2 linked regions of the Homo sapiens genome follow. The protein of the gene in region 1 purifies or fractionates together with the protein of each later gene. This does not show direct contact. Each region holds a gene or a part of one and is shown in the gene's direction. Other genes may lie near its edges. The genes, in order: CXCR5 and GNA11.

The links.
Region 2: the proteins of CXCR5 (region 1) and GNA11 purify together in Homo sapiens (affinity purification with western blotting; one study listed by BioGRID). This does not show direct contact.

What each region holds. Positions count from the first base shown.
Region 1 is NC_000011.10:118,893,812-118,896,089, forward strand, and holds part of CXCR5 (C-X-C chemokine receptor type 5), read left to right. Parts: coding exon 1-852; 3' UTR 853-2,278. UniProt on the Homo sapiens protein: Cytokine receptor that binds to B-lymphocyte chemoattractant (BLC). Involved in B-cell migration into B-cell follicles of spleen and Peyer patches but not into those of mesenteric or peripheral lymph nodes.
Region 2 is NC_000019.10:3,121,431-3,124,499, forward strand, and holds the end of GNA11 (guanine nucleotide-binding protein subunit alpha-11), read left to right. Parts: 3' UTR 1-2,569; downstream 2,570-3,069. UniProt on the Homo sapiens protein: Guanine nucleotide-binding proteins (G proteins) function as transducers downstream of G protein-coupled receptors (GPCRs) in numerous signaling cascades.

The sequences.
Region 1 (2,278 bases):
CTGTTCCACCTGGCCGTGGCCGACCTCCTGCTGGTCTTCATCTTGCCCTTTGCCGTGGCCGAGGGCTCTGTGGGCTGGGTCCTGGGGACCTTCCTCTGCAAAACTGTGATTGCCCTGCACAAAGTCAACTTCTACTGCAGCAGCCTGCTCCTGGCCTGCATCGCCGTGGACCGCTACCTGGCCATTGTCCACGCCGTCCATGCCTACCGCCACCGCCGCCTCCTCTCCATCCACATCACCTGTGGGACCATCTGGCTGGTGGGCTTCCTCCTTGCCTTGCCAGAGATTCTCTTCGCCAAAGTCAGCCAAGGCCATCACAACAACTCCCTGCCACGTTGCACCTTCTCCCAAGAGAACCAAGCAGAAACGCATGCCTGGTTCACCTCCCGATTCCTCTACCATGTGGCGGGATTCCTGCTGCCCATGCTGGTGATGGGCTGGTGCTACGTGGGGGTAGTGCACAGGTTGCGCCAGGCCCAGCGGCGCCCTCAGCGGCAGAAGGCAGTCAGGGTGGCCATCCTGGTGACAAGCATCTTCTTCCTCTGCTGGTCACCCTACCACATCGTCATCTTCCTGGACACCCTGGCGAGGCTGAAGGCCGTGGACAATACCTGCAAGCTGAATGGCTCTCTCCCCGTGGCCATCACCATGTGTGAGTTCCTGGGCCTGGCCCACTGCTGCCTCAACCCCATGCTCTACACTTTCGCCGGCGTGAAGTTCCGCAGTGACCTGTCGCGGCTCCTGACGAAGCTGGGCTGTACCGGCCCTGCCTCCCTGTGCCAGCTCTTCCCTAGCTGGCGCAGGAGCAGTCTCTCTGAGTCAGAGAATGCCACCTCTCTCACCACGTTCTAGGTCCCAGTGTCCCCTTTTATTGCTGCTTTTCCTTGGGGCAGGCAGTGATGCTGGATGCTCCTTCCAACAGGAGCTGGGATCCTAAGGGCTCACCGTGGCTAAGAGTGTCCTAGGAGTATCCTCATTTGGGGTAGCTAGAGGAACCAACCCCCATTTCTAGAACATCCCTGCCAGCTCTTCTGCCGGCCCTGGGGCTAGGCTGGAGCCCAGGGAGCGGAAAGCAGCTCAAAGGCACAGTGAAGGCTGTCCTTACCCATCTGCACCCCCCTGGGCTGAGAGAACCTCACGCACCTCCCATCCTAATCATCCAATGCTCAAGAAACAACTTCTACTTCTGCCCTTGCCAACGGAGAGCGCCTGCCCCTCCCAGAACACACTCCATCAGCTTAGGGGCTGCTGACCTCCACAGCTTCCCCTCTCTCCTCCTGCCCACCTGTCAAACAAAGCCAGAAGCTGAGCACCAGGGGATGAGTGGAGGTTAAGGCTGAGGAAAGGCCAGCTGGCAGCAGAGTGTGGCCTTCGGACAACTCAGTCCCTAAAAACACAGACATTCTGCCAGGCCCCCAAGCCTGCAGTCATCTTGACCAAGCAGGAAGCTCAGACTGGTTGAGTTCAGGTAGCTGCCCCTGGCTCTGACCGAAACAGCGCTGGGTCCACCCCATGTCACCGGATCCTGGGTGGTCTGCAGGCAGGGCTGACTCTAGGTGCCCTTGGAGGCCAGCCAGTGACCTGAGGAAGCGTGAAGGCCGAGAAGCAAGAAAGAAACCCGACAGAGGGAAGAAAAGAGCTTTCTTCCCGAACCCCAAGGAGGGAGATGGATCAATCAAACCCGGCGGTCCCCTCCGCCAGGCGAGATGGGGTGGGGTGGAGAACTCCTAGGGTGGCTGGGTCCAGGGGATGGGAGGTTGTGGGCATTGATGGGGAAGGAGGCTGGCTTGTCCCCTCCTCACTCCCTTCCCATAAGCTATAGACCCGAGGAAACTCAGAGTCGGAACGGAGAAAGGTGGACTGGAAGGGGCCCGTGGGAGTCATCTCAACCATCCCCTCCGTGGCATCACCTTAGGCAGGGAAGTGTAAGAAACACACTGAGGCAGGGAAGTCCCCAGGCCCCAGGAAGCCGTGCCCTGCCCCCGTGAGGATGTCACTCAGATGGAACCGCAGGAAGCTGCTCCGTGCTTGTTTGCTCACCTGGGGTGTGGGAGGCCCGTCCGGCAGTTCTGGGTGCTCCCTACCACCTCCCCAGCCTTTGATCAGGTGGGGAGTCAGGGACCCCTGCCCTTGTCCCACTCAAGCCAAGCAGCCAAGCTCCTTGGGAGGCCCCACTGGGGAAATAACAGCTGTGGCTCACGTGAGAGTGTCTTCACGGCAGGACAACGAGGAAGCCCTAAGACGTCCCTTTTTTCTCTGAGTATCTCCTCGCAAGCTG
Region 2 (3,069 bases), on another chromosome or scaffold:
TTGACTTATGGCTCGCTTTTTTCTAAAAAAAAAAAAAAAAGAAAGAAAGAAAAAAAGCAACGAAACATAAAACACACAAGCGCCCCGTGCCCCCAGTGACTCTGGGCCTCACAGAGCCCCCGCCAGCCAGCATGGGGCCCCGCCCTGCAGCCAGTCACGCGCCCCCACACCGCAGCCCCCCGTGGCTGTCCTTCCAACCCCACGTGCTTTTTCTTTCTCCTGCCCGCTTCTTTTCTTCATCACAAAAGGCGTGGAGACTCGGAGACGGACGTTTTTCCCCTTTTTTAAGTTATTGACGCCCAGCGCGCCTCGCCTCTTCACCCATCAACGCTGTGCTTTGCCCACTGGACTCCTGAAGAGGGGGTGGGGGGCTCCCTCGGTCGCCCACCCTGGGAAGTGCCTAACCTTTTATTTTATTTTATTTTTTTGAGGAAAAAGAACGCCTGACTCACAGGTTGAAGAAACACCCTGGGCCCTCTCTCATGGCCGGGTTCCCCGTCCCTCTGCAGAGGCTGGGAAGGGTCCCCGGGCTGGAGCCACGGGGGCTTCTCTGGGCTGTGCCTCCGGGGCCAACACTGGCTGCTTGGGGCTGCCCGGGGACTCCAGAGGGCTGCACGGCCACCCTGCCCTGGCTAGAGCGCACCCCACCGGAGCCCACGTGGGCTGGGCGGCTGGAGGGATGGTCCCCCGGTGACACTGGGAGAAAGGCCACTTGGATGGGGGCGTTTCTGTTTTGTTCCGCTTTGTGATGTCACCAATTTGGAAACAGCGAGGGTGGGTGGGGACTTTTACAGAATATTCTCAGGTGTGTACCCGAGAGGCAGAGAGAGGGACGTGGCCGGCAGCTCTGTGCGTGGCCTTGTCCCAAGCACTTGCGCCCGCCCCCGAGCGCCGCCCCCGGGGAGCGGGAAGCCAGCACTCGCACTTTGGCCAGGGGCGCGTGGAAGGTGGTGGCAGGCACCGGCCTGGGCAGCTTCCAGGCCTGGCTGGCCACGACCACGGCCCGAGGGGGAGCCCGCCAGGCCACGCCGCACTGAGCCACAGCCCCGGGGGCCGCCTCCCGGGGCCCCTTGAGGCACTGAGGCACCGAGACTGGTTCTCCCCGAGAGACTCGGAAGGTGGGGAACGAGGGGACTGTGTTTGGGGAGGTGGCTTTTTCGTCTGCTGTTGACTGAACACTACAGCGCCCTGTGGTTCCGGGCTTCGCACAGCTGTCCCAGGGATGGATCGCCTGTGCTGCCTTCGCCCGCCGCCACACCGGGACCCTGCACGGCTGCTTCTGGCCTCGACAGATGACAAAAGAAACAGCCCCAAAATACGACCACTCCAACCAGCAGTTCCCGCCTGCCTGCCCGCCACTGTCAGGCCTGCCCTGGCCTCCTCGTCCGCAGGGCTGTCTGCTGGCTTCTGGGGGCAGAAGAGCGGGGAGCCCCGTGGAAGGGTCAGGGGAGACCAGGTCAGGGCAGCTACATTTCTGGTGATCAGCCCCATGGGGAGACGGGGCTGGCGGGATACCCCCCCCCCGGCTTCCCCACACCACTTCTGTCTCACCCGGAAGCGTCCTTTTTTTGTGCCAGGTGTCTACCTAAGAGGGTTGGTGCCAGAAGCCCCCCATGGCGAGTGCTGGGGCCCGGCGGTGCCCTGGGGGAGCAGATGGGGCCACCCCTGGCAGGGCCGCTACAACCTTTTCCAGCAGCGGAGCCCTCTGGGGGGCCTGTGCTTGTGGCATCTCTGAGGGCCTAGATTGCACAAGGTGACCTGGCCGTGGCCTGAGGGTGGAGTCGCCCAGCACGCAGGCCGGGGCGCTGCGGGGCTAAGTATTAGGCCTTCCCAGGGAGGGGGCGTGCCAAGCATCCCAGAGCCGGGCTGGGACCGCCAAAACGTCGTGGCCTGGATCCTCTGGGTCTGAGTGCCTGATCCCCTGCCCCCCAAAAAAGCAGAGGTAGGTGTTGCAGGCCCAGGGCAGGGGTGCCTGCCCCAGGAGAGTCCCAGGCAGTGGTTCTCGTGCCAGTGGCACCCAGGGGCAAGGACAGCCAACCCCCACCCTTGCCACGTGTGGGGCCACGTGGGCATGTGGGGTGTGTGTTTTTACCTTGGTGAATCTCACCTGCCAACGATTTCTCGTGAGTGCCGACCACCTTCTCCGACCATGTTACGCCCGGGCGGCAGCAGCCCCCGGCCACTGCAAACCCATGCCCTGGGTCCCCCGGCTCCCCCAGGGAGGCATCCCCGTGCCAATGTCCCCCAGTGGTGGCAGCAGATCCTGTGGCCGGCCTGGCGGACGGGACCCAGTGATACTTGTATATTACACAGTCCTGATTTCAGACAATTTCAACCTTAATCTATTTAAAAAAGAATATTCTATACAAGCTGTTTTTAAGCCTTTTACCATTTGAAATGCATGTGTTGTGCGCGTTGGGGATGGGAGGAGGGGCTGAGGAGCGGCTCAGTGTCACCTCCCACAGCCACCGGCCCTGACCCTTAATCCAGACACCGATGGAAGTCGACTTTTCATATCTTTCTCCTGAAATGAACTCTGTTTTAAATTGGAATAAATTTTGTTCCTAAATGCTGGCGGCCCCCTTCTGGTTTATTTCCTGTTGTCCTTCAAAGGGGGCTGGGGGGAAGTGTGCAGAGGCCTGGCCCCCAGGAGCCCTGGAGTTACCTAGGGCATTGCCTGACCTCAGTGGGGCCGCCTGGGTGCCTCCGCACGGTGTCCCGGGGCCCCTCCCCTGTCATCTTGTTTGACCCTTCACTTCAAGTTCATTTCACTAGCACCAGGCCAGAGCAACCTGCTTGGGAAATGCCACCTTGTTTGGGGGCTGGGGACAAGGGAGTGAGACGGGGAGGAGCCCAGGTCCCAGGCCAGCCTGCCCCTCACCTTCCAGGGCACCTGTGGGGACATCATGCCCTCCGGGCCTCCGTTTCTGTAAGCTGCGGATGTGGGACCTCTGCAGCCTTCCTTCAGTTATTTTTTCCTTTTGAAAAAAAATTGTAAAATACAGATAAATTTCTAAGTGCACAGCTCAGCGGCATTAAGTGTATCCACACGGTTGTGCAGCCATCACC